Linked DNA regions of Homo sapiens. The protein of the gene in region 5 purifies or fractionates together with the protein of the main gene of each other region. This does not show direct contact. Each region holds a gene or a part of one and is shown on either strand. Other genes may lie near its edges.

Region 1 (3,500 bases), on a different chromosome or scaffold from region 5:
ACCTCCACCTCCTGGGTTCAAGCAATTCTCTTGCCTCGGTTTCCCAAGTATATGGGACTACAGGCACGCACCAGCACGCCCAGCTAATTTTTGTATATTTTAGTAGAGATGGGGTTTCACTATATGTTAGCCAGGCTGGACTTGACCTCCTGACCTCAAGTGATCCGCCCGCCTTGGCCTCCCAAAGTGCTGAGATTACAGGCATGAGCCACTGCGTCCGGCCAAAATTGAGAACTATATGGCAGTTAGTTTAAGAAAGAAACTTAATAAACAGGGAAAAGTATTAGCCATTTATGACAAAGACATGATATTCCTAAAATCCATATTTTTGTTTTGTTGTTTATTTTGAGACAGAGTCTTGCTCTGTTGCCCAGGCTGGAGTGCAGTGGTGCGATCTCGACTCACAGCAGCCTCGATCTCCCAGCTCAAGCCATCCTCCCACCTTAACCTCCTGAGTTGCTGGGACTACAGGTGTGGGTCACCACGCCTGGCTAATTTTGTATTTTTTGTAGAGACGGAGTTTTGCCGCATTACCCAGGCTGATCTCCAACTCCTGGGCTTGAGCAATCTGCCCACCCCAGCCTCCGAAAATGCTGGGATTAACAGGTGTGATCCACTGCGCCCAGCTTCATGATTTTTAAAAAATGTCCCAGATTAGGTTGGCAGAGATGGGAAATTGCTGACACCTAGTGTTGGCAAAGATTGAGGAAAATAAGCTATCATGCTTTTTTTTCCCCCCACTCAGGTGATCTGCCTTCCTCGGCCTCCCAATGTGCTGGGATTACAGGCGTGTGCCACTGCGCCTGGCCCATATTAACTCTTATATAGCCATAGTCCTTCATGCTCCCCTCTTTGGGAAATTTTGTACCTCATTTGTACTAGGTAACTGCTTCAGAATTTTAAGAGGTACTCTGGTACGGTTACTACCCTATTTTTTAAAGGTAGATCTTGTGTAAATTCAGTGGGTGCCAAATAAACTATACTATATATAGTTCAAATTCCTTTACAATGAAATTTCTATAGAATTTTTTTTATGATTGACATATTTCCCAATAGTATTTGGTAAATTCTTACTTACATTTGGAAAGCATTTTCTTGATTTTGGGGTTTATTTTTCCCTAATTTATTTTTCTAGGTTCAAAAGCTGTCTAAGAATGAAGTGCTCATGGTGAACATAGGATCCCTGTCAACAGGAGGGAGAGTTAGTGCTGTCAAGGCCGATTTGGGTAAAATTGTTTTGACCAATCCAGTGTGCACAGAGGTAGGAGAAAAAATTGCCCTTAGCCGAAGAGTTGAAAAACACTGGCGGTAAGTTTGTTAGTCTTTGCCACTGTCTAATTAAAAAAAGACACAGTCTTGTACAGAAAAAAAAGCACACAATCTTCCTTGAGGACAACAGTTACTGTGGCTTTCAGTCTCAACTATTTATTTGGATGACTTTGAAAACTATACTTCGGCCGGGTGCGGTGGCTCACGCCTGTAATCCCAGCACTTTGGGAGGCCTAGGCGGGTGGATCATGAGGTCAGGAGATCAAGACCATCCTGGCTAACATGGTGAAACCCCGTCTCTACTAAAAAATACAAAAAATTAGCCGGGCGTGGTGGCGGGCGCCTGTAGTCCCAGCTACTCGGGAGGCTGAGGCAGGAGAATGGCGTGAACCTGGGAGTCGGAGCTTGCAGTGAGCCGAGATGGCGCCACTGCACTCCAGCCTGGGCGACAGAGCGAGACTCCGTCTCAGAAAAAACTACAACCTTGACTATAGTCCCATATTTTAGTCCAAATACTGTGATTGGCTTCTCTTCCTGTTAGACACAACCTATGCAAAACCAAATGAATTTGGGTTCGGTATTTCTATCGTCATTGGCTTTGGAAATCATTTCACACTTAATAGAAAAATTGTAAGAGTTTTACAGAAAACTCCTCTATAGCTTTTTCCTAGATTGACAAACACACATACAGATTTATTTACATATATAAGTTTTTTTCTGAACCATTTGAGTGTAGGCTATATATGTTATGCTTCTTGATCTCTTAATACTTCAGTGTATATTTCCCATCAAAAAAGGATATTCTTATGTAACCACTTAGAAATTTAACATTGGCAAAATACTGAAATCTACAGTGCATGTTTCAGTTTTATTACTTGTCCCAATAATGTACTTTATGTTCCTCCTGTTTAGAATCTTGAATTGCATTTAATTTCATGTCTCTTTGATCTTTAATCTGGAGCTTTTTCAGCCTTTGTCTTAATTGACATTAACAGTTCTGAAGAATACAAACTAGTTACTTTATAGAATATTCCTCAATTTGGGTTTTTCTTATCATTCGGAAGCCTAACATTAGATTCAGTTATATATTCTTAACTTAAATACACCGTGAAGTCTCCTTTTCAGGAATCACAGCTAGAGGCACATGATATCTGACTGCTCCTCTTTGTTAAGGTTAGTTTTGACTATGTAGTCAAGATGTTGTCCAGCTTCTCTGCTGTGTAGTTACTCTCTACCCTTGCAACTAATAAGCAATCTGTAGGGAGATCTTTCTAGCCAGTACAAATAGCCTGCTGATCATTGAATCCCACACCCCTGGATGTAGCATCCACTGATGATTCTTGCCTGAATCGAACTTGACTATAATGATTACAAAATCATAGCACCTCTACGGGTTGCAGTATCCTCCCTCAACTCTACCACCCCACATTTATCATTTGGCATTCTTTCTTTGCCATTATTTATTTCCCTATCTAGTTATAATATGGACTCATGGAGTCCTATTTTATTCAACATGTTATGATCCATCACTGTCTTCCTTTATTTTGATGTGCATTGTTCGACGTTTGGCCAGTGGAGGTCCTTCAGGCTGGCTCTTGTGTCCTTTTGACATGTACTCATCATTTTTTTTTCTTCTTCTTTTTTTTTTTTTTTTTTTTTGAGATGGAGTCTTGCTTTGTCGCCGGGGTAGAATGCAGTGGCATGATCTCAGCTCACTGCAACCTCTGCCTCCCAGGTTCAAGCAATTCTCCTGCCTCAGCCTCCCGAGTAGCTGGGACTACAGGCACACGCCACCACACCCGGCTAATTTTTGTATTTTCAGTAGAGACGGGGTTTCACCACGTTGGCCAGCCTGGTCTTTAACCCCCGACCTCAGGTGATCCGCCCTCCTTGGCCTCCCAAAGTGCTGGGATTACAGGCATGAGCCACCACGCCTGACCTCTTTCTTCTTTTTTTTGGAACATTTCCTTATTTTCTGGCACAAAATCTTCCAGACTCATCTTGTACCTTCTCTGTTCCAGTTTTAGAACTGGCCATTTCTCTTATAAATGAAAAGCTGAGTGTTCAGGTGTGCTCATGGCTCTTAGGGTGCTGTTGCTTCTAGGTCTTTTGAGAGCATAGAGCCAGGAAGCATACACACATTTTTGGCTCCTGACTTTTTGCTCTTTCCCAGGTTATTGAGTTTGCCCCTTGCTTTCCATTCCTCGTCACCTCATCACAGTCCATACCAC
Region 2 (3,500 bases), about 22 Mb from region 5:
AGTGTGACATTTTGATTTGTTGAGCCTTTGTTGATTCTTAGATTGTCTATGTAAATAACCACTTTGACCTTGACTCCTTACTGTTTTTCTTATAGCATATGAAGGAACTGAGAATACTAGTATTGAAATAGCTGCCTTTGGCTGTGGAACTGGTGACTGTTGCATTTGTTTTTTAACTTTCATGTATAAACATTTATTTTAAGTCACATTTCCATAGATGGTTTTCCTTACTTCATTCACATATCATCAGTTTTCTTAGTTTTGTTACTCTGCTCAGCCACACAAGGGGAATAAACTTTTTACAAGAGCCAGAATTCCCAAGTGCAGTAGTTAATAAGAAGGAACATATGGTGTGCAGGTTACTCAATCACATCTTATCTTTGGCACCTGCCTCCGTCCTGTAACTTGCGATGCTCTGGGGGCCAGATCATGTTATGTGGCTATGATATATTTAATTATAGTGTCCTTTTTCATAAGTTGACATCAAGTGAACCCAGCAAGCCAAAAATCTCTATAAGAAGTAATTTGGGAAATGGGAAGGTAAGTTCCACAGGGAATGAGGTAGTACTAGCTGAAAGGGATTTCTTCCTTGTGTTCTTGAAAATGAGTGATAGGAGTGTTGGCGCACAGCAGGGAAAACAAGGCAGGAGAGGATTTATTTCAGAAATATTAAAACTTTCTGACAATAAGGCTGCAAGCCCAAGAACCTCAACTAGATTGTGCTTACATCAGTATCAGTAATGACCGTGTTCAAACAGACCCTTTATTGCTTTTGGCAAACATATCCACCTTCCACTGGCTTTGTTGCTGTCAGGAGAGAATGAGTTGAGCCATGTTAGCACTTCTTGTCCTGAATTGTTTAAGCTCTTGATTTGGTTAATTATAGAGTACTAAAATGGAATGTTTTGGATAAAGACATGGGAATGTGGTAGCAGTATGACTCCTTTTGCCTGTTACAAGAGTACTGCTCTGAAAAGTGTTCAGTAAGGCAATTGGCAGTTGGTCTGTAATAATAGTTACCAATAATTAGCCTTTTTTTTTTTTTTTTTTTTTTTGAGACAGAGTTTTACTCTTGGTGCCCAGGCTGGAGTGCAATGGTGCAATCTCAGCTCACCGCAACCTCCGCCTCCCGGGTTCAAGCGATTCCCCTGCCTCAGCTTCCTGAGTAGCTGGGATTACAGGCATGCACCACCATGCCCGGCTAATTTTCTATTTTCAGTAGAGATGAAGTTTCTCCATGTTGGTCAGGCTGCTTTCAAACTCCCGACCTCAGGTGACCTGCCTGCCTCGGCCTCCCAAAGTGCTGGGATTACAGATGTGAGCCATTAGCCTTTTATGTGCCAGGAGTTGTCATAGGGGTTCTGTAATCCTCACAACCATACTATGAGATGTAGGTGGCATTATTTCCATTTTATAGATGCAGAAATGAGATCCTGGGAGGTTAAGTGCCTTGCCCAAGGTTATACATCTAGAAAGTGTCAGAGGTAGAACTTAAATCCAGGGCTGTCCGTCTCCAAAGCCCATGTCCTTTTCATTATGCCACAGTGATTCTAACTTCTTAGATGCTGAGTTCTTGCTTTCTCCCAGAGGTCTTTTAGAATACTAAGTGAACTCTAAGGCGTGTCTGTCTGGCTAAGGCTTAGGTCATCCCAAGACCAAAGTAAGGCAGGTCTGAGTTAGAGCTTTAGGAAGAGGATGGGAGAAAATTGTACAAATGTAGAACTTGAAAGAATTGTAAATTTAGAAGAGGAGAATAAAAGCATCTTATACAGAAAAGCATTTCAAGATCAATGATGCAGCTTCACACTGGTAATTTACTGATAATCTGAGAAATTTATCCATATTTTAAAAGTTATAAATAAATTTGGAGTACCTGAGGAATATACCCTTTCTTCCTGTTCAGCTAACACTTTTTCCCTATTCTTTAAGCCTCACCATCTCTATGAGTCAATCTTTGATAAGAGCTTTTGAAAATTGCAAAGGGAAGAATATTCCTACTGTATACCAGGCATTGTACTTAGAGCTTTACATATACTGTTTTATTTAATTCTTTTTTTTTTTTTTTTTTTTTTTGAGACCAAGTCTCGCTCTGTCACCCAAGCTGGAGTGCAGTGGCGATCTCGGCTCACTGAAACCTCCGCCTCCTGGGTTCAAGCGATTCTCCTGTCTTGCCCTCCTGAGTAGCTGGGACTACAGGTGTGTGCCACCACACCCGGCTGATTTTTTTAATTTTTAGTAGAGACTGGGTTTCACCAAGTTAGCCAGGGTGGTCTCGATCTTCTGACCTCGTGATCCACCCGCCTCAGCCTCCCAAAGTGCTGGGATTACAGGCATGAGCCACCGCGCCCGGCTATTTAATTCTTTTAAGAGGCCTCGAAGATAGCTAGTGTTCTCCTTGTTTTATTGAAGAAACTGAGTGTCGAAGAGATTAAGGAATTTGTCTCAAGGTTACACGGTAATGTGATGGAACTAACAGAGCCCTAAACTGTTGCTTTTCAATTCAAATAGTACTCTGTTCGAAACTCAGGATGAACCTTCTAAATCTTTTTTTTTTTTTTTTTGAGATGGAGTCTTGCTTTGTTGCCCAGGCTGGAGTGCAGTGGTGCGGTCTTGGCTCACTGCAACTTCTGCCTCCCGGGTTCAAGTGATTCTTCTGCCTCAGCCTCCCGAGTAGCTGGGACTACAGGTGCACGCCACCACGCCTGGCTAATTTTTGTATTTTTAGTAGAGACGAGGTTTCACCATATTGTCTAGGCTGGTCGTGAACTTCTGACCTCGTGATCCACCTGCCTCAGCCTCCCAAAGTGCTGGGATTACAGGCGTCAGCCACCACGCCTGGCCCTAAATCTTAATCTGTGTTTTTTGGGTAGTTTTTTTGTTATTGCACTGACAGTTTCTTTTTATTTATTGCGTGGTTGAAGGTCTTACCGTGTGTTTTTGTGAGCATTTATTTTCTGAGAAAGCAGCCTGAGGTGGGCAGATCATGAGGTCAAGAGATCAAGACCATCCTGGCCAATGTGGTGAAACCCTGTCTCCACTAAAAATACAAAAAATTAGCTGGGCATGGTGGTGCACTCCTACAGTTCCAGCTACTCAGGAGGCTGAGGCAGGAGAATCACTTGAATGCTTGAATGCGGGAAGTGGAGGTTGCAGTGAGCCGAGATCATGCCACCGCGCTTCAGCCTGGCGACAGAATGAGACTCTGTCTCAAAAAAAAGAAAAAAAAAAGCTGCTTTAGGAGCTGAAGTTGCAGTTGTGTGTTTGATGTCTTGAGGAAGACAATTACTACTACTACTACTACTAGTACTACCTACATTCTCAGTATCCAGTTAATTGAAGAAATCGATAGTTCATTAAAAAGGGAGAGTGAGTTTATTATATCATTTCCTTGGAAGTGATTCCCTCCCCCACGAGAGAAAAAAAGTTTGTTGTAATCTTTATTCAGACCCTTTGTCAAGTTTATAAAGAATATGCAGTTTGTTTCATGGTGGTTTTTGTTT
Region 3 (3,500 bases), on a different chromosome or scaffold from region 5:
AAAAGCATTAATGAAAAAATGATGTCCTCTTCATTTTTCAACTCATGCAGTGCTGTGGCATTTGGTGCATGTTCAGAAGCCATGCCCTATCTGAGGGTGGTATTGGGTGTCTGGTTCCTTTCTTCCCCCAAATTTTTCAAAGTCAAATCTTTATCAGACTCTCCATATAATTTTAATTTTTAAAAGTCCTGCACTGAAGCGTGGAGGTTCTAGGCAGAATTGGAAAGTATAACTGCCCTCTGGTGACCTGGGTGAGACTTAGGGCTAACTTCCTACTGGGTACAGATTCTCAAATTATTACTTAAGCTTCTGGATTGGATGGGAGGGACTCTTCACATGTCTGTTGACTACAAGCTTTTTTTGTTTTGTTTTGTTTTTTTCTTTTAAGCAGTTTGCCATGTGCCTCTGCAGCATATCTTCCTTGGGAGCTGAACATTCTACCCACTGGGGTTCCTGATCTCTAGTGAGCCAGGGGATTAATAAAGAAGATCTTCCTTAACATGGGAGATGGGAAGCCAGGTCTACTAGGGGAACCACATCCATTCAGAAAATCTTGGAAAACCTGATCCTTGTAGTTTGTGGCCAGAGTTCTAGTCTGGGGTCTTTTTCTATGAGTCAGGGTGGTATATCATTTTGCATCTTTATTGGAAGGCAGATAAGCTTTTGAGGAGCTCATGTATCAGGTTTGCAAAATGACTGAGGGGTAGGGGCTTACTACTTGGAAGAAAGCTATGACCTTGTGATGAATCACCTGAGAGACATAATTCAGTCCACTATTGTGTCAAACTAGGAAGTGCCTAAAACACTGAAGAAAGGAAGGGGAACATAAGGGGTTAGGTACAAATCATTTTCATTTCCAGAAGTGCCTCTAAATTAAGGTAAATTTGGGACTTTTTTCTCCTTTTGTTAGAAGACAGTTATTTTTTAAAGAGCTCTGACTTGCACAGAATTTTTATCCTGAACCAATTCAGTCCTGTTTCATTGGTGATGGGTGTGGAATAACTTTAGCTATGCTGGATATTTTTTCACCCTATTTAATTGAATAACCCTCAAGTAAAATTCATTTTGAAGGCAGGAGTTGGTGTCACAGACGTTTATCTCTGGTAAAAATGGTAGAAAATTCCCCAATGCCTTGTGCCAGTAGAGTATGGCTCTGCCTGAAACATTCTCCATAAGGAACGCATAGCTTAGGATGAGGTGGAGGTAGGCCAGGGGGTTGCTACCTCACTCCCCACCTTCTGTATGTTCTGCAGTCAAGAAAATAGCAGCTCATTAAAAGAAGACATAATCATGCCGTGGATTACTTGTGGTTCCAGAAAGCTTTCTTAAGCTTTCATTCTAGACTCCAGATCTTGAGTAGGTAATGTTACAACACTTAGTCACGGCCCCTGCCTGCCTTCATCAACTCAGTTTGCCTTCTCTGCTGTAGCCCTGTGCCCGAAATGTTGGACTTTACATTCCTTTCCACTTGAGCGCCTTGGAAATTGTTTGGTTTTTTTCCAAAATATACTGACTTCAAAGCAAGGAAACTAGGTTATAAGACACTTGGGGTCCTTAATTTTAAATAAGAACTAATCTTCCTGAAGGAAGGCCATCATGAGAAAACCCACTTACATTTTATCAAGATTGGTGCTCATGAGACAAAATTTCACTTATATTTCCAAAATATAAGTAGTGGAAAATGAATATTTAACGCTAATTTTGCTTTGTCTCTTAGCTTCCCTTTGACTATTAATGTCTTTTATTCTTGTTTATACATGTGGGAATAAAAAAGTCCCTGGATCCCATTTCCAGCAGAGGGCACTGGACAGAATTTAGCTTTGTACTCATTGGTCCATTTTTCTAAGACTGGCTCTTCTTTCTTGTCTCCCATCCTCTTAAGGAACACTTGAGCTCAGATGACAGTTTATTTAGTGTCTGAAGGAAATAGGGGTAGTAGGTCTATTTATTGGCTTAGCTTGTAGTTGGATATGCAAAAAGGAATTCTCCAGGGTTATATATATTCAACTCTGGGTTTGAATCAGTCAAGGGTAACTGGTTTGAAATGATGTTTAATTCAAGGCCTTTTGTCAAATTGCATATATTTTGCTTTAGGAATCTAATGGTAGGTATGTGTGTATATATAGAGAGAGGGAGTTTTAAAAATTTCTTAGTCTCTTGATTGCTTATGATATGTTGTTATTGGAACCCATACATTGCTTTTCCAGTCTCCAACAGATGTGATATCTGTTTTATGTGTCCCTTTATCGTATCTCTTTATAGTTTCTATAGATCACTTTATAGTATCTCACTACATGGGAAGAATACCTTTATTTCTGTGTCTGTCTCTGTGTGTGTAGGAATCACCACACTTGAGTGGATTTGGCCCACGGACATCTAATCTTTTCCAGTATTCTCCTTGAATGTTTTTTCTCTGACCTCAGGTTCCACTTGTATTTGTGGAGGTTCCAGGGCAGCAGCGACTTCTCAACATTTCTTGCCTCATCTCTCCCTCTGTTCAGCCCACAGGTTATGATCTCCAGAGCCAAGATTATACTCCTACCCTTCCTGGCTGCCTCCTCCCTGCTTCTGCTGCTGCTCGCCTAGGTTGTTAGGACCTACACATTTGGAAACTTACTGACGTTTTTGTTGGGAGGACAAAAAGGCTGAGATTGTTATGCTATGTTTTTTCTTTTGTTTGAGAACAAGTAGAACTAATTTGCATTGTCTTACAAGAAACCTGTGTTTTTTCCGGCACAAAACTACTCATCTTTGTAAAATACTGATTTTTCTACCCTTCTGCTGGGATTGTGTCTGTTACTTCTGTGCTAGATGTAGGATGAGGAAGGTTTTGTTCTTGCCTCTTCCTTGCTACTCAGTGTGGGCCTTATTGCCCAAAGGCAGATATTGCTGAAGTGGCTTTCTTTTTTGGTGGTTTTTTGTTTGTTTGTTTTTGAGGCAGCGTCTTACTCTGTCTCTCAGGCTGGAGTGCAGTGGCACAATCACAGCTCATTGTAGCCTCAGTATCCCTGGGCTCAAGCAGTCCTCCCGTTTTCCCACGTCAGCCTCCCGGGTAGCTGGGACTACAGGTGCACACCATCACACTCGACTTATGTTTTGTAGAGATGAGGTTTCGCCATGTTGCCAAGGCTGGTTTCAAACTCCTGCGCTCAAGGAATCTGCCCACCTTGGCCTCCCAAAGTGCTGGGATTACAGGCATGAGCCACTGCACCCAGCCTCTTTTTTGGGTCTTAGAAGCAAGTATTTAGAGGCAGTGTAGATAAAAATCCCAATCAGAACCATATTGATCCTAAATTACCTTTCTGGAACTTCAGTTCTGGCTTGTCCCTTCCATAAAAGGAGCTTAGCTTTTAACTAATTCCCTTCCCAACCTGGTCTAAAACAGCTGCTTAAAAGGGAATTTTTCTAGCATTTGGCTTTATCTGTTCCCTTTTTAGGTTCCATGGTTTTCAGTTTTAGGCTTTCCTAGGGGATCTTGTACAGCGTGATTTTTGAGGAGA
Region 4 (3,500 bases), on a different chromosome or scaffold from region 5:
TTTGAACAAGGTGGATCTGGCCCCGCCAGCTCTTGTGGTTGCCTGGAAGCATTATTTCCATCAACACTATCCCCAGCTCCACGTCGTCCTTTTCACCTCTTTTCCTCGGGACCCCCGCACCCCACAGGACCCTAGTAGTGGTGAGTGGGCAATGAGAGAGGGCAACTTGGGAGAGGTGAGTTGGCAGGGGACAAAGGGGAGAACAGAGAGGCTTATTGACAAGGGGGCACCTGGTCTTGGGCCTAAGGGTGGTGGGAGAGATGAGAGGCCTAAGCCCGTGTGCCCATCCTTTTGTGCCCTCTGATCTCAGTCTTGAAGAAGAGTCGGAGGCGGGGGAGAGGATGGACTCGGGCCCTGGGGCCAGAGCAGTTGCTGAGAGCCTGTGAAGCCATCACTGTGGGGAAAGGTATGTGGCCCTTAGAGGAGGGCTGTAGGAGGACATGGGGGAGACCAAAGATGCAGAATCATTTTGCTCACCTTTCCTGAAGCCAACCCCTCTATGGTGGATATGTGCAAGAGGCCAGGGGAAGGGACAGAATAAGGAGCAGACTGACTTGGTGGGACGAGAGGCAGCAGGTAGTCAGGAGCCTCAGTGGCTTGCTGCCTTTAGCCTTCCCAGTACTTTTCAGAAGCTCAGAGAAACGTGCGTGATTCCAGGGAGGGTAGGGTCAAATGACTTTTGGGAGATTCTCTGACCTGCTCTTATTTAGGTTGGCACTGTACAACTCCAGAGGGTGCCAGTTACATAATCTGTGCAGGGCACAGTATGTGCCATCATGCACAGCAGCCCTGGGGAGAACCTCTTTAATCTTCTCCTTCTTTGAGCAGTGGACTTGAGCAGCTGGCGGGAGAAGATTGCTCGGGATGTGGCTGGGGCCACCTGGGGTAATGGCTCTGGGGAGGAGGAGGAAGAGGAGGATGGCCCAGCAGTCCTGGTGGAGCAGCAGACTGATTCAGCAATGGAGCCAACTGGCCCAACCCAAGAGCGCTACAAGGATGGGGTGGTGACCATCGGCTGTGTGGGTAAGGAAGTGGCAGCTTGTGCGTGGTGGCCTCCAAGGAGGTACAGAGTTTTCATATTCGGAGAAGAGAGAGGGCGATCAGGTCTCATTAGGCCCCAGGGTGTCTGAGGGGTGATCTCTGCCAGTGGCGGTGGGCAAGGCAGAAGAGGCGTCTGCTGCAGTGGAAGGATCATGACAGCCTGAGTTAAATTCCACCTCTTCTCAGCTGTGAGGTCTTGAGTAAGTGATTTTGCTACTCTGAGTCTTAGTTACTTTGATTTTAAAAATAAGGACATTGATACCTGAGTAAAAGAATGGATGACGGCCATGTGTGAGGGCTCATGCCTATATAGTCCCAGCGCTTTGGGAGGCTGAGGTGGGAGGATTGCTTGAGACCAGGAGCTCAAGACTAGTCTGGGCAACATAGTGAAACCCCATCTTTACAAAAGATAAAGAAAACTAGCCAAGTGTGGTGGTATGTGCCTGTAGTCTCTGCTACTTCAGAGGCTGAGGCAGGAGGATCACTTGAGCCCAAGAGTTCAAGGCTGCAGTGAGCTATGATTGTGCCACTGCACTCCAGCCTGGCTGATAGAGACCCTGTCTTTAAAAAAAAAGAATGGATGTGAGGAATGATGGGAATAGTGTTAAGAGAGTGTAAGAATGCCTGACAAATAGTGATAACAATAATAACAATTATTATTGTTAAAACTCAGTATTTATATGGTGCTTACTATGTAACAGGCACTGTTTTAAGTGGTTTATATAAACCATTTGAATTGTAGTAATTAGTCTGTAGTACAGTGATTATCAAATCATAGTAGGAGCTCAGCAAGAATTAGTATTCTTCTAGGTTTTAACCCTTTAAGTTTGTTGCCAAGGAGAATCTCCTCTTAAGGGCTTTGTCTCAGCTCACAGTGGAGGAAAAAGGAATGTATGATTAGGACCCAGGGCCCGTCTTCATTTAGGGTGGGAGAGGTAAGAAGAGACCTTGGACAAGTTATGGTATCTGAGGTGATATTGGAACCAAAAAGGGCCCAACCCAGAATAAATTTGGGAGTGTGGAGTAGGTAGTTGGGTTCCTTGGAAGTGCCCTGACTTATCTCTGTGTCCTTTTTGTCTTTGGAAGAACCTGCCTTACTGCTGAGTGATTGCTCCTCTTTCCAGTCATTTCACCCGGCTGTCCCTTCCCTGACTTCTGATCCTAGTCTCCCTGTCACAAGGAGCCTCTGTTCCCTCTCTTAGCAGCCTCTGCTCTAGCTGATCTCTATTCCAGGTGGTGTGAGAGGGAGAGTGTTTGCTGTGGCACAGGCACCCCTGAGTTTGGATTTCCCTCCAGCTCTCATTCATTTACCCATTCAACAAATATGTACTGAACACTTAACCAGGTGCCAGATATTCTAGGGATGGGACATACTGCTGTGGAAATGGCAAAAAGGTCTGTAGATTCATGGAGCTTATTTTCTTGTGAGTAAATAGATTTTGTGATCCGAAATCATGTAGGGGCAGTGAAGGCAATAAAGCAATGAAAGGGGATAGAGAGTGACTGAGAGGAGAGGTGCTCAGGGAAAACCTCCCTGAGGAGAGAACTGGATGATGAGATGAAGTGAGCCATTCAGAACTGTGGGGAAAGGGTCTTGAGGAGGGAACGGGCTTGGAGATTCTAGGACCAGCAAGAGTGCCCAGGGGATTGGAGTATGGGAGCCAGGATAAAGTACTGGGGATGAGGTCAGCAAGATCACCAGGGCCCACATCATGTAGAGCCCTGAGGCTGTGACAGCCATTTTGGATTTTATTCCAAGTCTCATGAGAAGCCAAGGGTAGGTTTTGAACAGGGGAATGATAGGATCTGATTTTGTTTCTTATAAGTTTACCTCCTGAGTAGAGAATAAATGATGGGGGGTGGGCAAGAAAGGGAGCAGAGAGAGCAGTTGAGGCTATTTCAGTAATCTAGGAGAGAAATAAGAGTTGCTTAGAGTAGGATGCTGGAGCTGGAGGTGGTGAGACAGGGCCGGAAGCATGATATATTTTGAAGGTAGAGAAAATGAGATCGCTGATGGCTTGCAGTTGGCACGTGAAGGAAAGTGAGGATAAAGAAGGACTTCCAGGTTTTTGTCTTGAGCAACTGGAAATACTGAGATGGGAAGACTGGGGGAGAAGCAGATTTGAAGGCTTTGGGGAGGAGAGGGGAATCAGAAATGAAATTTCAGATTCTTTTTAAATATCCCTAGTGGAGATGTTGAATAGGCAGTGGGTAAGTAGTCAGCAGCTTAGGGGAGAGAAGAGGACGGAAATTTGAATTTGGGAAAGATTTAAATTTGGGGAACCATTGATGGATATAAGTGGTATTTAAAGCCACAGGATTAGGCTGGGCACAGTGGCTCATGCCTATAATCCCAGCCCTTTGGGAGGCTGAGGCAGGTGGATCACTTGAGGCCAGGAGTTTGAGACCAGCCTGGCCAACATGGTGAAACCCTGTCTCTACCAAAAAATACAGAAAAT
Region 5 (3,111 bases):
CCACCAGCTTGGACTTGAGGTGCTCCTTGTAAGCCAGGATGTCTCCAGGCCACTTGGTGATTGTCTGCTTCTCACAGACCCAAATTTCCTGTGCAACCTAGAAAGCAAAACCTGGACTTAATCCTGGGCTAGTCACTGTCCCTGCCTCTGCCCAGCAGACTGTCCTGAGGGGCGTCTAGGAAGAAAACTCCGCCCCCCAAACCCATATCCAACTCACTGTCTCACTACTTCTAAGTTATTTGGGATGTTCTAACCCAAGGGTACCATCATCAGGTTTGGAGCCTTCCAAGCCAGGAACTGCTGTGTCACTCCTATTGTCAGCTCCCTGGCAGGGCCTAGATCTATTCAGAGGCTTCACTCTCAGCCTTCTTTTCTCCACCTCTCATCTTCCCCAGAGCTTCAGAGGAATGAGCAACAACTTTTTCTCAAATGACTGTGGTAGCTGTCTAATCAAAATCCTCCTTAGAATACTATTTTTGGACTGAAGAATCTTGGGACAGTAGTAAAAGCACCGTTTTCTACCCAACTCTCTTTCCCATTTGGGCCCAAAATGCTAAGTTGGTTGACATCTCCAGATAGCTACTGAAGAAATGAAGTGTTTCAGTTAAGGCTTTCTAAGTAGCCCCAAAGAGGCATAAGAACTGGTCCTCACCACCTGTGTCTACACTCTGAGCCCCTTCTCTTAATTCAGTAGGCGGGTATTATGCACCCTCCACATGCCATGACTACCCTACCCAACCCCCTAGAAGCTCTGCTGTGCCTCACCCCCTGGCCAGGGCCTCACCTGCTGAATGAGTCTGAAGTCATGGCTGACCAGCATCATACCACCCTCAAACTCATTGATGGCATCTGCCAGGGCGTCGATGGTCTCGATATCCAGGTGATTGGTGGGTTCATCCAGGAAGAGCATGTGGGGGTTCTGCCAGGCCAGCCAGGCCAGACACACTCGGCACTTCTGCCCGTCTGACAAGTTCCGGATTGGGCTCACCTGAGTAGAACCGTGACCTACATATAACTTGGCATTATCCCCGCCAAACAGCACAGCTCATCTCTCCCTCATTTCTCCCTGACTCCTCCATTAGCATCGCCATTTATAAAAAGTGAGGCTCAGAGAGACCCACTAGTCTCTTGAGGCCTGAAAGAGACTCATCCGGAAACCTGAAGCCCTTGCCATTACTAAGCCCACACCTCTCGCTCTCTTGGCAATGAATTGGATCCTTCCAGATCTGAATCCAGAAATTTGTTTTCTAGATTACAAGTTCCTTTGCCCTCAAGCACTATGGCACAAGGGCATGTCAGAGACTGGCACGCTATCCTTGCCCCCTCAAAATGCTCCATTACATAACAACCTAGAGTAAAGAAAAGGTAGTAGGTTCTTAGGGGAGTCAAATGGAGGAGACTCTGGTTTGGACAGCTTCCAAACCCAGGCTGCCAGGACAGTATCCCCTGACCCACCCAGCCACAGTCTGCCAGCTATCTGGCATCCTCACCACACCCTCCTTTACTGACCTGTTGTTTCCCAGTGAGACCGTATCGCCCAATGATCTTCCTCATTTCTTCCTTCTCCTTGATCTCTGGGTAGCACTTCATCATGTACTCCAAAGGTGAGAGATCTAAGTCCAGCTGCTCTTGTAAATGCTACAGGAAAAATGGAAGCCACCCGGGTGTGACTGGCATCCCGCTTCAAAATAAACCCTACTAGGTAACTTCCTATTTCTATCCCAGGCACCTGTTCTGGGTTCAAGAAGCAGGTAGGAGCCACCTAGGCTGGAATTCCTGCCAGGGGGTGGGGGCGGCTGGCTGGAACTCAGCCAGATACAGCCCCTCCCTATACCCTGGGCAATTCCCCGGATCCCAACCCCAGGCCTGTACCTGATGGTAACGCCCTATCTTGACATGAGAGTGTTTTCGGATCATGCCATCTGTGGGTAGTAGCTAGGAAGAAAAAAGTAGAAACGTAAGCATGAAACAAAGGAAGCCCAGTTAGAAACATAGGCAGAGCAGGCAAACAAACACATGTTCACACTGAACAAGACTCAACTTCCTAAAAAGAATACATCACCAACTCGCACACTGCTATTCTGGCCACTCTAAAAATATTTAGGAAGATGTACTGAAGCAGATGTTCTCAAGAGGCAAAGATACAATTTAAGTAGTTATAAAATGTCTACTGAATGCACTATGCTGTATAACAAAGGACTTGGATGTAGGTGCAACATACATTTTCTAAAATTAAAAACAGTTAAGTCCTCAAAGTTGTCACTGTCATCGATAGGTTCTTAGAAACAGAACCTATTTTAAAGTTTCACTTTAAGTGAAACAACATATAGCAAAACTAATTTTGCCACAGGCTAACTGATATAAACAAGAATTAGGTTCCTGCAGCATTTTTGGTCACAAAAAAAGATCACCAAACTTCTAAATAAAGATCCAAAGATTCTTTTCTTTAAGAGGGAGTCTCGCTCTGTTGCCCAGGCTGGAGTGCAGTGGCGAGATCTCGACTAACTGCAACTTCTCTGTCCCAGGCTCAAGAGATTCTGGAGTAGCTGGGATTACAGACACCCGCCACCACACCTGGCTAATTTTTTTTTTGCATTTTTAGTAGAGAGGGGGTTTCACCATGTGGCCAGGCTGGTCTCACACTCCTGATCTCAAGTGATCTGCCTGCCTCGGCCTCCCAAAGCACTGGGATTACAGGTGTGAGCCACGGCACCTGGCCAAAAAACCCAGTCACTTCTAATATTCAACATCAAAATACATGTGAGCTATACATACACTTAAGAAAGATTAATAAAAACAAGGTAAGATATTTACCCAATTTTTGGTGAATCAGTGAGTGATGGCAATTTTAAGAGTGGTGGGTTAAACCAAGGAATAAATGTTTGCAAAGGGAAAACTGTAAGGAGCACCTCCTACCACCACACAGTTAAAAAATAATCACGAATGTGGCTGGTTTGCTGACTGCATTTGTATGGTTATCATAAACTTTATGAATTTTTCTTTTACAATATTTTATATTCATTCATTCTATCATTTTCCAACCTGCTTATTCAAGTTTAGGATCATGGGCAGCTGGAGCCCATCCCACAACCCAGGGAACAAGACAAGAAC
Region 6 (3,500 bases), on a different chromosome or scaffold from region 5:
TTACTACAAGAAGAAAAATAGTTGAAAGCTGTATTTTTTTTTTTTTGGAGGAAAACAATATCAGCTACACATTAAAAAGTGAAATAATAATAGGTGATATTTATTAAGTTCTTACTCTTCCACACACTATTCTGATGATTAAGCTAATGTCACAAGGTTAGTAATATTGTCCAGACAAATTCTAGGTCTCAAACTAACTACTATGCTATGCCACCTCATTAAGAAATTAAATGTCCTAAGTGGAAAAAAAAATACGTGTGTAAAAATCATGTTATATTACAGGCTACAGTAAAAAAAATTTAGGACTGCAGTATCTTTATAGAAACATCATGAAAGGGAATAACTTATATTTTAATAAAAATATTATTTGCATGTTATATGACTGTTATATGACAACAGTAATGCTGCTCTCAATTTCAGAAGCAAGTCATGAATGATAAATAACACATCCATGGAGCAAACAGAGGTATCTGAAATCATTATAATTATCATTAAAATATTAAATCATGTATTAAATTCTGTAAATGGGCAAAGACAGTATTTCAGTCACTATTGCTGAACCTAGCACAAAGTAGGCAGTCAATGGTATTTGTTAAATTGTAATGAAACACTGATTTAAAACATCAAACCTTTAATAATCTTATTTTCCCTTTTGAATTTAAAAGGACTTTGGAAAAAAACAATTTGGATGGTCAAATATTTTTGTTTGCTTTTTAAAATGCTATACAAAGAAGTGTGAGCTGCCACCTTTTTCTACTGATAAATGTTTACATAATGGATAGAAGTATTCAAAATCATGTATCCAGCCCTCTAGCTACATCAATATTAGATATTTGCCATATCTATGGGAGATTATGGAAGTACTTTTAACCCTAAAAATCATTTCTAAATGCTAGCACTAAATTATTGATTTGCCTTTCCATCTTTTACCTTCTTCATGTATAGAAAATCTTCATGTATGGAAAATCAGAAGCTCCCTAGTAATAATCTCATTATTATTATTTTCTGATGGATCTCATAGACCTTTATTAGAGCCTTCTCTATAGCAATTCTTTACAGTTATTAGGTCATTAGTACATACTTTTCAGTGAGCATTTATGAAGCTGTCTAACATGTGTCAGGATCACATGCCACCTTTCACATATGTGATGCCACCAGCAACAACTCCAAAAGCAAACATATAGTTATATCTCACTACCTGTGGGGGATTGGTTCCAGGACTTCCCCAACTTCTCTGCTGATACCAAAATTCACAGATGCTCAAGTCCCTTACATAAAATGGTGTGGTATTTGCATATAACTTTCACACATTTATGCATATACTTTAAATAATCTCTAGCTTACTTATAAGACCTAATATAATGTAAATACTATGTAAATAGCTGTTATACTGTACTACTTTAAAATGTGATGTTTTATTGTTGTATTATTATTTATTTATTTTTCCTTGAATATTTTTGATCCCAGGTTAATTGACTCCTCTGATACAGGGGACCAACTGTTATTTATAGACAACCCTCCAAATAAATATACAAGGGCAGGGAGAAATGAGACTTAAGTATACATTAGGAAGTAGTAGATGAGGATAAGGTGACAGCTATATTATTTTCTAACTAAAATACTTACTTGGATTTTACATTCCACAACTGCAGGCTTCCTTGTTCACTGCCCAGAAGTATTTTATTCAAGTAGGTACTTGGATGCAAAATTGCAGAAATTTTAAATACTGATTTATCAAAAGTCAACTGCAGGTATTCTTCTACAAAAGTGAAAGTTATAAATATTTTTTATAAAATAGTTTAAAATGTTTTATGTAACCATATATTTATCACTTAAAGTAAGTCTATCACATCAAAGATTTATATGTTAAAATAAACCACAGACTTAGATACTAATCTATAAACATTCCTTGAGAAATAAAATAAATGAGAGGCAACTTGTAAATGTAATTTAATTTAGACTGTCAAAAATTTTCTGTAACTTCTAATAAAAATACTATTAAAAGTTTCATTCACTTTTGAATTACTTTACAGAAAAGGATAATAAAGTTAAAAAAAAAAGATCCTAAGGATTAGCATTCATGTTTCTGTAATTTGATCAACAGACAGGAGTGAATATTCCAAGTGAAGTGCTTATACTTAGCTCTTTCAGGGAACGAAGAGCCAATTATCTGGAAAGTTTGATGGGCCACTCAAAAAATGCCAAAAATAAAAGACACACCTCAGTGAAATAAGAGTACTTCTCACACATTTCCACAAAATAATCTCTAATAAAGGAGAAAAAAAAAACGTATAACCCTGTGGAGTGGGGGGTGGCATCACCAGTGGTCACTTGCTCCAAGATAAAAAAATTCTCTGAAATCTTTGGTTACATTCAAAATTTCTATGTTTGAATTCTGCTTTTCACTTTACAGTTCCTCCATGATTAAAACAATGTTCCACTCTATTTTCCAGTAAATTTGTGTATCAAAGAAGGTACATTTCACTTAATCTTTAGGTTCACATACTATCTGGCACACTACTGTACAATCCCAGGGTATGGGTACCACAGTTTAGGATGTACAGGTATAGGTGAAAATTATATAAACTTTACTTTGAATGCTATTTTAAGAGATCCTTGCCTTTATTCGTCAGTCACTACAAATGGCTCCCTGAATATACTGGTTCAAGAGAGTCTGCTGGAATGTAAGAACCAGATCCTGTAACCTAATAAAAGCCCTTTTAACTTCTATCTGCACAGGGAATACTTTTGGAATTCTGTTCCCTCCCTCTACTTGAGCAAAAACAAAACAAGAAAAGGGTTACTAATCTGAAACAAGAACCTGGAATAATTCCCAGAAATGCAATCTTCAGGATATTTACTGAAAAAAAAAAAAAAAAAAAAACAAAAAAAAAAACAAAAAAAAACCAAGAGGCAATATAAGCTAAAAATGTAACCAGATTAAAGAACTTAAAAGATTCAATTCATGATGAACCCAGTATTTTATTGAGGAAAGGTGTAGATATCCTAGGGATAAATTCTTCATGTTTAAAGATACATAATCCCATAAACATAGCCACTGTCTAAGCTATCACAGTTGAAAGAAACTGACTCATATCCCTAGGAAATGGATGTATATTTTCCTTCAGATTACAAGATCAAGTTTACTATTACAGTCTCCTTTACTAAAAGGTGAAAATACAAACCAAGAATTACTCAGGTATGAAAATACATCAATATTCACTCCACAGGGAAAACAATACAACAAATCATTAAAGTTGGAGAACTGCAATGGAAAATACATTAGTTGAGGTAAGCACATTAAACAGTTTATAAGTAGTTAACTTGCTAAAGTTGTTTATCTCTTTCTTACTTAGAACTTTTTTTCTTACACGTTAAAGATTTTTGATTTTTTTAATTTCTTACTATTTACAGGCAAAATCTCTGGCATAGATGTTTACATAGATTTTAAATTTTAATTAAACACATACTACCCTAAGATAAAGCAAATAAATGAGTTA

Evidence for each region.
Region 1: the proteins of ABCF2 (region 5) and EIF2S3 fractionate together in Homo sapiens (co-fractionation; one large-scale study listed by BioGRID). This does not show direct contact.
Region 2: the proteins of ABCF2 (region 5) and AHCYL2 purify together in Homo sapiens (affinity purification with mass spectrometry, with the first as the bait; 2 studies listed by BioGRID). This does not show direct contact.
Region 3: the proteins of ABCF2 (region 5) and PPP1R10 fractionate together in Homo sapiens (co-fractionation; one large-scale study listed by BioGRID). This does not show direct contact.
Region 4: the proteins of ABCF2 (region 5) and GNL1 purify together in Homo sapiens (affinity purification with mass spectrometry, with the first as the bait; 2 studies listed by BioGRID). This does not show direct contact.
Region 6: the proteins of ABCF2 (region 5) and WDR36 fractionate together in Homo sapiens (co-fractionation; one large-scale study listed by BioGRID). This does not show direct contact.

The regions. Positions count from the first base shown.
Region 1 is NC_000023.11:24,071,956-24,075,455, forward strand, and holds part of EIF2S3 (eukaryotic translation initiation factor 2 subunit 3), read left to right. Parts: intron 1-1,135; coding exon 1,136-1,308; intron 1,309-3,500. UniProt on the Homo sapiens protein: Member of the eIF2 complex that functions in the early steps of protein synthesis by forming a ternary complex with GTP and initiator tRNA.
Region 2 is NC_000007.14:129,228,030-129,231,529, forward strand, and holds part of AHCYL2 (adenosylhomocysteinase 3), read left to right. Parts: intron 1-3,500. UniProt on the Homo sapiens protein: May regulate the electrogenic sodium/bicarbonate cotransporter SLC4A4 activity and Mg(2+)-sensitivity. On the contrary of its homolog AHCYL1, does not regulate ITPR1 sensitivity to inositol 1,4,5-trisphosphate.
Region 3 is NC_000006.12:30,610,744-30,614,243, reverse strand, and holds part of PPP1R10 (serine/threonine-protein phosphatase 1 regulatory subunit 10), read left to right. Parts: intron 1-3,500.
Region 4 is NC_000006.12:30,549,990-30,553,489, reverse strand, and holds part of GNL1 (guanine nucleotide-binding protein-like 1), read left to right. Parts: coding exon 1-140; intron 141-310; coding exon 311-406; intron 407-828; coding exon 829-1,023; intron 1,024-3,500. UniProt on the Homo sapiens protein: Possible regulatory or functional link with the histocompatibility cluster.
Region 5 is NC_000007.14:151,214,095-151,217,205, forward strand, and holds part of ABCF2 (ATP-binding cassette sub-family F member 2), read right to left. Parts: intron 1,936-3,111; coding exon 1,873-1,935; intron 1,639-1,872; coding exon 1,510-1,638; intron 989-1,509; coding exon 785-988; intron 98-784; coding exon 1-97. Other genes in the region: ABCF2-H2BK1 (ABCF2-H2B protein), read right to left, coding at 1-97, 785-988, 1,510-1,638, 1,873-1,935.
Region 6 is NC_000005.10:111,098,848-111,102,347, reverse strand, and holds part of WDR36 (WD repeat-containing protein 36), read right to left. Parts: intron 1,760-3,500; coding exon 1,627-1,759; intron 4-1,626; coding exon 1-3. UniProt on the Homo sapiens protein: Part of the small subunit (SSU) processome, first precursor of the small eukaryotic ribosomal subunit.